Regions from separate parts of the Homo sapiens genome. Here all the other regions are linked to region 2. Evidence: fine-mapped expression QTL. A gene starts in region 2. Each other region holds a variant in brackets. All regions are shown on one strand. Distances are from middle to middle.

Region 1 (4,244 bases), 130 kb after region 2:
TATTACAGAGTCTCATTCTCTTGCCCCCCACATTTATACATCTGTAAATTCTGTAAGAAGCAGTGCTCTATTGATTTCTTTTTTCCTGCACTGATTCTGCTTTCCTTTTTACTGGGATCCTAAAAATAGATTTTTCTGAGAAGATCTGCTAAGTGTACAGTATGAGTGCTAGGTAAATAGTATGAGAGTCTTTGGAATTTAAGATTGTTTCATGATATTTTATACAATTAAGAAAAGTTGTTTTCAGTAGTGTTCCAGAACAATATATTATTCTTCTAAGAGATTCATTGATTCTCCACACCCCTCGTATTTCAGTATCATTTGGTCTATAAACTAATCTATTGACAAGAGTTGTATATTCATTGCTTACATTATCAAATTGTGTGAGGATATGGATTAAACAACCTTTGTTAAGGTACTGATGTCTGTAGAAACAGTAGTATGTTAGAATTTCAAAAATACCGGGAAAAATAGTTTGCACTTTGTCCCTCATGGCTGTCTGTGTTGCAGGTGAATTGTTAATATCTGTCAGATTTTTTTTTATTTTTTATTTTAACTTTTTACATATTTTTGTTGAACTTTTTTTTAATCTTAATAGCTTTTGGGGTACAAGTGGTTTTTTTGGTTACATGGATTAATTGTAGATTGTCAGAATCTGAGATTTTAGTGCATCCATCACCTGAGTAGTGTACATTGTACCCAATCTATAGTTTTTACCCCTTACCCCACCCCACTCCCCCTTCTGAGTCCCATAGTCCATTATACCACTCTGTATGCCTTTGCGTGCCCATAGCTTAGCCCCTGCTTACAAGTGAGAACATACAGTGTTAGCTTTTCTATTCCTGGGTTACTTCATTTAGAATAGTGGCCTCCAGTTCCATCCAAGTTGCTGTAAAAGACATTATTTCATTCCTTTTTTTGGGTGAGAACTATTCCATCATGTATAAATACCACATTTTCTTTACCCACTTGTTGGTCGATGGGCACTTAGGTTGGTTCCATATCTTTGCAGTTGTGAATTGTACAGTTAGATGCTTCTTAGGTTCAAAATATTTCAGTATTCTGGAATATTTGGAAATACAGCATATTATTCTTTGGAAGGGATTTTCCTGCCACTTGTGTTTATTTCCCTTCTAAATAAGTTTAAAGTGTGGAAATGCTTTTGAGTACTAGAACTTGTACTTATTTTTGCTGAAAGACAAAGAAAAAAAGTTATATATCCAGCATATTATTAATTCTGAGCTACAGCATATGCAGATTTATAGTTGACATTTTCTTAGAGTTATTTATACAAACATTGCTTTAATACTAGAGGTCTCAAAGATTGTCCTGGTGGTTTTTGTTAAAATGTAGATTCAGATATAGTAGGTTTGTGTGGGGCCTGAAATCCTTCATTTCTAACAAGCTCCCAAATGATGCCACTGTTACTGGTCCCAGGCTACATTTTAAAAGTTTTTATTTTGACCTAATTTCAGATTACAGAAAAGTTGCACGAGTAGAGTTCTCTGATATCCTTCATCCAGACTCCCTGAATGTTAACATTTTGTTAAATTAATTTTTTCTCTTTGTCTCTCTTCTTTCTCCCTTTCTCCCTTTAGTGTATATTTTTCTGAACTGTTTAAGCATGCAAAATACTTCTTGGTCCCTAGTTTAATATGTATTTCCAGAAATAAGAGCATTCTCACATAACCACACTGCAATTATTAAAATCAAGAAATTAACATTGATAGACTATTATTACCTAATCTTAGTCCTATTCATATTTCTCCAATTGTCCCAGTAATATCCTTTATAGCAAAATTTGTAAGAATAGTACATGTCATGTCTCTTTAATCTCTTGTAATCTGGAACATTTCCTGAGTTTGTCCTTATATTTCATGATATTGACAGTTTAGAACAATATGGGCCAGGCGTTTGGTATAAAATTTCTTAACTGGATTGTTTGGTGTTTCCTTCAGATTAGGTTTGGATAATGCACATTTGGCAAGAGCACCAGAGATTT[G/T]ATGCTGAGTTTTTTCAGTGTGTTTTGTCAGGAGACACAAGCTGTCCATTAGTTCCATTACTAGCAGTGTTAACTTTGATCATTAGGTTAAGGTGGTGTCTGCCAGGTTTTTCCACTGAAGAGTTACTGTTTTACTCTTTTTAATTAATAAGTATACTTTTGAGAGATACTTTAAGACTATATAAATATCTTATTATTCTTTAGATCTACAGACTACACTTTAAAGAGCTAGACTAGATCAGAAGTGTCTGAGCTACTGAGCCAGTCTAAATTGCGTTGTGCTGTAAATGTGAAATGAATGCTGGATTTTGAAGACTTAATATGAAAACAAGGATAAAATGTTTCACTAGTAATTTTATATAGATTGCATGTTGAGTGACAGTATTTTGGAAATTTGGGTTAAATAAAATGTATCATTAAATTTCCTCCTGTTCGTTTTTACTTTAAAAAATACGGCTACTAGAAAATTTAAAATTTCATATGTGGTTTGTCTTTCATTGGATAGTACTGATAGAAATTTTAGAGCATAGTTGGACTCAGCCCCCTTTTAGCCAACACTCCTGTAGGCATTTTCTAAAACAGTTGGATTTTTGTGGTTGAGAACTTAGTAGTATTGATTGTTTGGTTCATTCTGCTAATATCATGTGCTGACCATATCCCAGGCACTTTTAAGTGTTCATAACCAGAAAGATGCTGTCTTTATTCATGGAAATTACAAGTTAAGAATGGGATTAGTTGTCAGTAGTCCAAGTTCTCTTTATAGTAAAATTTGAAAAGCATTGGATTGGTTTAAAGTGGAAGGAAAATTTAACAGCAGTAGAGACTTTTGTCAGATAAAAATTAGAGAAATGATACTTGTGAAAGAGAATGTTGAGAGTCATGATGGCCAGGAGTATACACCTTCTTCAGCTTTTTGAGTAGGGATTGTTTTTGTAATGATTTTTTTCATGTAAATTCATTTCTAAATCAGAATAATAAAGAAGTGTTTGTTAATGCAGTTGTTGATCATACCGCTTGAATGTGCATACATTTGCTAACTCATGAATTTTTTTGTAGTTGATGCGATGAAGAGAGTTGAAGAAATCAAACAGAAGCGCCAAGCTAAATTTATAATGAACAGGTATGAATATTTGTATGGAGTAACTTTTGGAAAATAATTACTAGTAGATATTTAGAGGCATTAGTATTTTTTAAAAAAATTTTTTATTTTGACATAACTTCAGACTTACCAAAAACTTCAAGGAATAATATGAAGAACTCTTGTATATTCTGCTAGCATTTTACATTTACTTTATCCTTGTCTCAATGTATTGAAGACATAATGCTTTTTCCTTCTAAGTATACTTAAGTGTGTGTAACCTAAAAATAAGAACATTCTCTTAAATAAACACAGTATGGTTATCTATCAGTCAGGAAATTAACATTGATGTAATACTATTATATAATCTATAAACCTTATTTAGACCTCACCAGTTATTCTGATTACGTCCATAGCAACACAAAGTCCTTCATATTTCTTCAGGCTCCTTTAATCTGGACAGTTTCTCATCTTTCTTTTACGTGACATTGATAGTTTTGAAGACTATAGGTCAAGTTATTGTATAGAACGTTCTTCAATTTGGGTTTGTCTGATACCTTCCTCATTAGATTTTGGCTAGGCACCTTTGGCAGGGATGTCTCAGAAATGATGGCGTATCCTTCTCATGCATCATATCGGGAAGCACATGATGTCACCTTGCTGGTGATGTTAACTTTGATCACTTGATTAAGGTGATGTCTGTCAGGTTTCTCCACTGGAAGATTACTATTTTGTTTTCCTTATAATCAGTACGTATTTTGGGGGAGATACATAGAGATTCAGTAAAAAGCCTATTACTCCTCAAACTTGTACCTACTGGTTTTGGTTTTCATTAGAGTCTTGCCTGAATCAGTTACTACTATTGTTGTGATTGTTGCCAAATGGTGGTTTTTCTAATTCCATCATTTCTTCTACATTTTTTAGTTGATTTTCTCATGTAAGAAAGAGCTTTCCCTTTTCCATCAATTTCAAGATTTATTCCTTTATTCATATTACATCTGTGTGTATTCATGGATTCTTATGGTATACATTGGGTTATAATTCTTTATTGTCATTATTTATTTTGAAGTTCTAAGTGGCCCATATTTGGCCTGTGGGAGTTCCTTCAGGCAGACTGTCATGTCATTTTGACAATTCTCCTCATTCTTTGAGTGCATTCATGTT
Region 2 (4,217 bases):
CCAGCAACTGAACACTATCTTTCCCTAAAAGATGAAGAATCTTGTAAATGCTTGCAAAGATTAAGGGATAAGTGTAACTCCTCAGTCTCTCTGTCCATTCCCAAGTCAAATAACCATAATTAGTAACATTAAGGAGTAAATGTCCAATAATATTGAAACCTATTTCCGTGTTTTTTTTTTTTTTAAGATGGGGTCTCACTCTCTTGCCCAGGCTGGTCTCAAACTTGGGCTCAAGTGGTCCTGCCTCTACAGGTGCACACCACTTCACCTGGCAAAATCTATTTTCATTTCCATTTATAAAACAATATTTTATTTTGTGGCAGTCTTAAAACAGCATTTTATACTGGATATTTGCATTAAAAATTCAATTGGCCAACTAAACTCTTAACTTCTTCAAGGCAGTAATGTGTTTTTTACTTTCTCTGTATCCTCCAAGTGCTAAGTACTGTGGGAATGTATGCTAACGGCTGTGTCAAGTATATTAACATAAAAGAAAGATACAGGAGAAATATTTGTATAAAATAATGGTATACTTTGATGAGTTAAAATTATTTGGGGAAAATACGGAAAACTGAAAATATGTATAGTAGTCCCCCCTTATCTGTGGTTTCTCTTTCCATGTTTCAGTTGCCCAGAGTCAACCACTGTCTGAAAATATGAAGATATTTTGAGAGAGACCACATAAAAGTTCACATAACTTTTATTATAGTATTGTGTTATACTTGTTATATTTTAATACTGTTAATCTCTTACTGTACCTAATTTGTATAAACTTTATCATAAGCGTGTGTGTATTTTTTACATATATAAAAACAATATATATAGAGTTTGGTACTGTCTACAGTTTCAAGCATCCACTAGGGATTTTGGAAACTATCTACTGAAGACGAGGGAGCAAGGGGGACTACTCTAAAAGAAACTGAGCACAATTTCCAAGATGAATACACACTCATAGTCTGGAAAAGAAACCACAAAGGATATTTGAAAACCATGTGATGTGAAACTTCAAGAGACTGCCAGTATTCATCTGGAACAAAACTTGTCTGCACTAAAAAGCAGTTTAATATTCGTAAAGCTATGGTAAACAAGAGCAGATAAATATTTTCTCCAAGAAGATCTGAAAAACAGAACAAAACAGGTAATAGTGGCACAAAAGTCAGGCAGTTCCACTTGCAAAACTTAAAATCTGCTGCTCTGGTTGGCTCCTTGTAAGGCACAGTAGTGACCTCTGGTCCCTCCACACCATTCTTAAAGCCAACTTGGTTGGTTATACAAGCACCACAGCGTCATCACTGGGTGACTGCCACTCTTTTAGTTTAACCAACTTTTCTTGCAACTTATTGTGTAAAGATAATATTAAAATAAATACAAAAAAAAAAGAGTGGGTTAACTAAGGCCTTAGGCTAATTAATTAGGTCATACTATGTGTGTATCTAATGAAAGAAACCAGCTAACAAATTACTAATTTGGGAAGCAGCCCTTTGTATATGTGCAATATAAAATGGTCCTCTGTACATATATATTGATGATTACTATTATATATGCCAGGCACTGTGTTAATTTCTTCACATGCATCTCACTTAATCCTCCAAACAATATTATGGGATAGGTATTATTAGCCCCATTTTACAGACGAGCAAATTGAGGCCCAGAAATTAAACTGCCTTGTCCAAATAAAGTTGTAAATTACTTATCAGGATTCAAACCCGGGTCTGTGTGATGTCTCCAAAGTCCTGCTCTTGACCACAAATGGACAGCCTGTCGGCCAAATACAGAGTATTTTTTAAAAAATTGAATTTAGTTGCCAACATTTAAAAATCAGAATTTATATTAAAATCTGTGTTTCCAGCATTTCCCAGCATTTCAAAACTCAAGATCTGGCAACACAGAGCTCAACGGGCAACTGGCTGGTAATGAAATGGAGGGGGTTCCTTTTAGATGGGGGTAGGAGCTCTCCAGACAGTGTCCCCTCACTCACCCCCGCGGCGCCTGGCGCTCTTCTCCTGGGTGTTGAAGTACAAGGTAGACTTTCTCTTTCGCAGCTTTATCTTGCCGTGGGAGCGGTTCTGGAGACCATGCAAAGTGAGGCTGGCATCTCCGCCCCCCGGCTCCATTCCGCACTTGCTTAGGGGCCTCCTCATCCCTGGCCGCCACCTTCCTAAGGCGGAAGAAAGCTGCAGTAGCGCGCTGCTCGTCCATCCATTAAGTTTGGCCTTTGAGAGCAGTCGTCGCTCGCAAGCCCGGAAGTAACCGGGAACGGGCAACTTCGTAGCTCCCACCCGACGTGGTGGCCTCCTTGCGGTTTCCTTTCGCCGTTTCCGAACCGAGGGATTGCTACTCGCCTTTGGCTTGGCGGTCTCTGTGCTCGGGGGTCCGAAAACTGCTGGAAGGCCCCCGGTCTCTGGAGGGGAGCAGGCGGTAGCGAGTTTAGTGACGTGGAGCAGGCGCAGAACAGTCGGAGGTACCTGAGTGGTTATTAAAAACGGTAACGGTAATTGTAGACGTCAGTGTTGGTGTTAACATTTCAGGTTCGTTGCTCTCACAAAAAATGCCTGTTCAACGAGGTAGGCAGGGTAGGGATGATTTAGCTTGTTGTACAGATGTGGAAACAGGCCGAATGGTTCCTATTTTTTTTGTTGTTGTTGCTGTTGTTAGGTTTTTTTTTTGTTTTTGTTTTTGTTTTTTTTTTTGAGACGGAGTTTCGCTCTTGTAGTCCAGGCTGGAGTGCAGTGGCGCAATCTGGGCTCACTGCAACTTCTGCCTCCCGGGTTCCAGTGATTTTCCTGCCTCAGCTCCCAAGTAGCTGGGACTACAGGCGCGCCACCACGCCTGGCCAATTTTTGTGTTTTTTTGTAGAGACGGGGTTTCACCATATTGGCCTGGCTGGTCTGGAACTCCTGACCTCGTGATCCGCCCGCCTCGGCCTCCCAAAGTGTTGGGATTACAGGCGTGAGCCACCGCGTGCGGCCCACTCCTCTTGTTAAAAGTAAAACCAGGCCGGGCGCGGTGGCTCACGCCTGTATTCCCAGTACTTTGGGAGGCCAAGACGGGCGGATCAGGAGGTCAGAGGATCGAGACCATCCTGGCTAACACGGTGAAACCCCGTCTCTACAAAAAATACAAAAAATTAGCCGGGTGTGGTGACACGCGCCTGTAGTCCCAGCTTCTCGGGAGGCTGAGGTAGGAGAATGGCGTTAACCGAGGAGGCGGAGCTTGCAGTGAGCCGAGATTGCGCCATTGCACTCCAGCCTGGGCGACAGAGCGAGACTCCGTCTCAAAAAAAAAAAAAAAAAGAAAAAGTATGCATTTAAAACCATTGAGAACATTCTGTAATAGAAAAGGTTTTAGTTTTGTCTTATACCCTTCCCTAATTCACTTCCTGTACTCCTTATGTATTTATATTCTTGTTTTAATTAGTAACATATTATAAAAATATTGTTCACTCCAGTGCAAAGTAGTGACATAACATCTTTTAAAAGGACATTGTACTAAGTGATGGCTTTGCTTTCCATTTTTGTATGCAGATTTGAAGAGATTTCCTGGGTGTGGAGTGTGACTTTCCAAAACCAGCTTTTCCTTGAGCTGTATTTGTTGCAGCAATGTTTAGGAGATTGACTTTTGCACAACTGCTTTTTGCCACTGTCCTTGGAATTGCTGGAGGAGTATATATTTTTCAACCAGTATTTGAACAGTATGCCAAAGATCAGAAGGAATTAAAAGAAAAGATGCAGTTGGTACAAGAATCAGAAGAGAAGAAAAGTTAATACTACATGGAGTTAGGCCTGGCGCAGTGGCTCACGCCTGTAATCCCAGCACTTTGGGAGGCCGAGGCGGGTGGATCAGGTGGTCAGGAGTTCAAGACCAGCCTGACCAACATGGTGAAACCCTGTCTCTACTGAAAATACAAAAATCAGCCAGGCTTGGTGGCATGCGCCTGTAATCCCAGCTACTTGGGAGGCTGAGGCAGGAGCATCACTTGAACCTGGGAGGCAGAGGTGGCAGTGAGTCAAGATCACGCTGCTGCACTCCAGCCTGGGTGACAGAGCGAGACTCCATCTAAAAAAACAAAAAGCAAAAAAACCCACAAATACCTCATGGAGATGAACTGTAATAATTGCTTAAAGTTCCATTTAATTATGTTAACTCTAATCTAGCAAAAACATAGATGTACTTAAAAATAAATCATGGATAATGATTTTTTAACCTAACACTGTTAA
Region 3 (4,244 bases), 41 kb after region 2:
CCTGTCCTCTCTATGCATTGTTCAAACAACATAGTAAGATTCTCAGGGACAGAGGCAGCACAGCCTCGGAAATTGTTGGTTTCTTAGTTTTTTTCTCTATTTACATGAAACTAACCAGTCTAGTGTCAAACAGGAAATATACACAGCATAGTTTTTCTTTTTTTATTGCAAAGTGTCAGATTAGGACCAGTAACATCAGCACCACCTGGGAACATAGAAATGCAGATTTTCAGCCCCACTCCAGACCTACTGAATCTGAAACTCTGGTGGGGCCTAGAGTCTGTGTTTTAAAACCATCTAGGTGACTCTGATGCACCCCGAAGCTTGAGAACCACTGTCTACAAGTACATTTCATGACTCAATCGCTGGTTAAGGCTGCTGACCTCGGCCTTTGTAGTTGATGAGTCATTAACATTGAGGCCTTAACTTTCCTGGCCATCTGCTTTCCTTGGTGATATTTATTCAAAACAGGTGACATTTATTCAAAAACTATTGTTGTAAGTCTTCATTAGAATGCCATACACAAGCGAGGGAATGGACTTTTATTGAGCACCTGCTGTATGTGAGACACTGTGTGTGAGGCTATTACTTATTTCATTTGATTCTCACAACCACCTTGCTAGGTCAGTATTATTATCCCTATTTTACAGATTTGGTATCTGAGGCTAGTAGAAGTTAAATATGATCTTGATGTACAGGCTATTTGCCTAACTGTAGTTGTACATTTTTGCCATCTGTTGTCTCCCTAGAACAGTGGCTTACAAACTTGATTGTGTATAACCAGAAAGCCCCTGGGAAGCTTGATATAAATGCAGATTCCCTAGGCCTCCCTTGCAGAGATCCTAATTCAGAGGCCTGAATGGGACCCAGAATTTTGGATTTTCATCACATATCCTAGGTGATTCTGCTGCCAGTCCTGGATCCATTTTCACCTGCCCTAATTGGTTGACCAGTTGCCCCTCAAGGCTTCTCTGAGGTTCTGTGTTGTCCTGTGTTTTGTGGTCACAGGCCTCGGACACTGGGTGGAGAAGAAATAGAAGAGTATGGGAGGACAGGCCATGGGGGCCTTTATTAAGAGTCTTATCTGCCTGGCTCTTTCTGCTGTCTCTACTGCTTCTTAGAGGGTTCCTAGGCCATATTTTGGCTTTGAGTAACTTGTGATTCTTTCCATTATCTATCCCAAAGTTTGGAACTGTTCTTTTAGCAACTGTGCCCTTTTGTCTGTGGGGTGCATAGATGTGAGCAATTTCCTTCAGGCTGTAATTAATAAATGTGGAGTAGGGAGTTGCTTCAGCTTTTGAGTTCAGAAATGGTATTTCATCCGTTTGGTGATACAAGCCCTTATTTTTCAGGGATAGAATTGACATAATTAGTGAATGACTTGGCTTAGAACTTAGAACTTAGAAATGCAGATTTTTCAGCCCCATGTCAACGTACTGAATTCACTAAATAATTAGAAGACTGGGCCAGGTGCGGTGGCTCACGCCTGTAATCCCAGCACTTTGGGAGGCTGAGGCGGGCAGATCACGAGGTCAGGAGATCGAGACCATCCTGGCTAACATGGTGAAACCCTGTCTCTACTAAAAATACAAAAAATTAGCCAGACGTGGTGGCGGGCGCCTATAGTCCCAGCTACTTGGGAGGCTGAGGCAGGCGAATGGCGTGAACCCAGGAGGTGGAGCTTGCAGTGAGCTGAGATCGTGCCACTGCACTCCAGCCTGGGTGGCAGAGTGAGACTCCCTCTCAAAAAAAAAAAAAAAAA[AT/T]AATAATGATTAGAAGACTGAATAATCTGGTGCTATTATGAAGGAAAAAAGTGAAATGGAAATTAAAAACAAATTTCAGATATGATGCCTCTTCTTTGTGAGGTGGCAGGCTGATTTCTGTTCACAAGTTTAGAAGCGGCTACTGACATAAATACCCCAGGGCTCCCATAGTGTAAAAGAGTCATTTCTATGAAAATATAGTGGAAACCTGCCAGGCTTTTGTCCAGTAGAGAAATCAGAAATGTTGAACTATTAAATTTCTTTAATATGTTTTAGTCCCTGAAACAAAATGTGTGTTACAAAATGGGAAGGAAATTCACAAAAGCAAACATTGCAGCTTCCTGAAGTCCACTATATATAAAGCAAATTACAGGTTATGTTTCTAAGAATACTTTCTTTTTCTACCTGATACTAGGGTTGATAATAACAATATGCAAGTGAGTATAATAGCTACAGCTACCATATGTGTCAAGAGTTATACAAACATTTTCTCATTTAATCCTCAACAATCTTTCAAAGCAGATATTATCTTTCATTTTACAGATGATGAAACAGGTTGAAGAAGATGAAGTAACTTGCCCAATGCTGGGATATGGTTTCCCGGGATGCATGACTTTCAGTGCTATAACTCAGTCCCCACTAAACTGGGATGGTTGGTCCCACTGAGTGTCACCCAGCCTACTGACCCATAGTTGATAGTAAGGCCAAACGGTTCTGAGTTGGACAAATGGTTAATGTATTGAAAATTGCCAACCTGCATCACAGAGCAACTTTCAGAACATTTTTTGGTGCCCATTTTTCTTCATTTTACACACAGTTCTAATAAGCTTGGTTATTTGGTTTCCAGGTGCCTTGTCAATTAAAAACAGTGCATCGGAAGGGGTAGGGGTTGTCCCAGGAAGGCACACTGATTACTGTGGTGAGGGATAGCTGCCTGACAGCAAAGGTGAGGGGAGGGAGAAGGAAATATAAATTAACAAAAGACACGAAATAAATACAGCAGTCAGGAGCCATTTATTATGGAGACAAACAGGCTGGTCTCGAACTCCTGGCCTCAAGTGACCTGCCCGCCTCTGCCTCCCAAAGTTCTGGGATTACAAGTATGAGCCATCGTGCCCTGCCAAATTTACCAAAGTTATACGTGGACGTTGTTTTACAAGGGCTGTTACAAAAAACCAGTAGACGCCTCTCCCCCAGCCCATTTCCTGCTCTCCAGAGTTAACCACTGAAGTCTTGCAGTAGTTTATACATCTAGTCTCTAAATGACACATTTATATTTCTGTGGTCAGTTTTTCAGTTTTAGTCATTATCTATTGATACTTTATTACAGAAGTAGAGAATTTAGCTCATTGCTCCATCCACCCCTGCCACAAGTATACCATTTTCATCTCCTCTTTCTTACCTGAGTTTGTTCATTTGTTCCTACGTTTGTTTGTTCATTCTTTCCTTCCCCTACTTAACAATTTATTTTTAAAAAAACTACTTTATGGGAGGTATTATTGACAGATAAAAAGTCTGTACATATTTAATGTATACATCTTGATGAATTTGGGGATAATTATTCACCCATGAAACCATCGCCACCATCAAGGCCATAAATGTATCCATCACCTCCCAAGGTTTTATCCTGCCTGTTTTATTATTATTGCATTTTTGTGTGTGTGTGGTAAGAACAATTAACACTGGATCTATCTTCTTAGCAGATTTTCAGTATATAATACAGTATTATTAGCTATAGACACTATACTGTATAATAGCTTTTCAGAACTTATTTATTTTGCATAACTGAAACTTGTTCTCTTTAACTATGACCTTCCCATTTCCCCCTCCTCCCAGTCCCTGGCAACCATCATTCTGCTCTCTGCTTCTGGGAGTTTGAGTTACTTTTTTTTAAATTAAAATTTTTTCTTTTAGAAACAAGATCTTACTCCGCTGCCCGGGCTGGAGTGCAGTGACGTGATCATAGCTCACTGCAGCCTTGAAGTCATAGGCTCAAGCAATTGTCGCGCCTCAGCCTCTTGAGTAGCTGGGGCTACAGGAGTGGCCACCATGCTTGGAGAGTTTGACATTTTAGATTCTATATATTAAATATATGGGAGATCACATAGTATTTTTCTTTATGTGTCTGGCTTATTTAACTTAGTATAATATCTTCCACCTATCTGTATTGTCACAGGTGGCAGGATTTATTTCTTTTTTAAGGCTGAATACTTTTTCATTGTATGTATAGACCACATTTTCTTCATTCATTCATTGTCAGTGGACATTGAGGTTGTTTCTAAGTCTTGGCTATTGTGAATAATGCTGCAGTGAACATGGGAGTACAGATATCACTTAGAAATCCTGATTTCAATTCTTTCAGATGTATTATACCCAGAAGTAGGATTGCCAAATCCTATGGTATTCTATTTAAAAAATTTTTGAAAACATTTTTTTAAAGAAGCTCCATAATGTTTTCCATAGTGGCTGTACCAATTTGTA

Which allele goes with the higher level. Positions count from the first base shown, and alleles are read on the strand shown. Sizes are in standard deviations (SD) of each study's normalised expression. Not every link is listed here.
As copies of T replace G in region 1, the expression in cerebellar hemisphere of the gene that starts at base 2,170 in region 2 goes up (moderate effect, 0.58 SD a copy in GTEx).

What was found. PIP is the estimated chance that this variant, and not a neighbour inherited with it, causes the effect. A credible set is the group of variants that fine-mapping cannot tell apart.
Region 1: its variant is the best candidate, but not a certain one, in a credible set for the expression of PIGB in cerebellar hemisphere (GTEx, PIP 0.71).
Region 3: its variant is the best candidate, but not a certain one, in a credible set for the expression of PIGB in whole blood (INTERVAL, PIP 0.89).

Annotation. Positions count from the first base shown.
Region 1 is chr15:55,184,240-55,188,483 of GRCh38, reverse strand. RSL24D1 (ribosomal L24 domain containing 1) reads left to right here. Exons shown (of 6, transcript NM_016304.3): 4 at 3,059-3,122. Among named protein-coding and RNA genes, the nearest start is that of RSL24D1, 11 kb to the left of the region's middle. The variant G/T (reference allele first, on the strand shown) is at 2,003.
Region 2 is chr15:55,317,175-55,321,391 of GRCh38, reverse strand. It overlaps PIGB (phosphatidylinositol glycan anchor biosynthesis class B), which reads right to left and starts at 2,170. Exons shown (of 12, transcript NM_004855.5): 1 at 1,979-2,170; 2 at 982-1,117; 3 at 2-119. The coding sequence starts at 2,141. It overlaps PIGBOS1 (PIGB opposite strand 1), which reads left to right and starts at 2,269. Exons shown (of 2, transcript NM_001308421.2): 1 at 2,269-2,528; 2 at 3,525-4,208. The coding sequence starts at 3,600. The coding sequence ends at 3,764. It also overlaps a transcript of RAB27A not described here. RefSeq lists enhancers at 1,911-1,990, 2,061-2,140, 2,201-2,290, 2,341-2,410.
Region 3 is chr15:55,276,002-55,280,245 of GRCh38, reverse strand. All of the region lies in intron 1 of RAB27A (RAB27A, member RAS oncogene family), which reads left to right. Among named protein-coding and RNA genes, the nearest start is that of RAB27A, 12 kb to the left of the region's middle. RefSeq lists an enhancer at 261-555. The variant AT/T (reference allele first, on the strand shown) is at 1,763.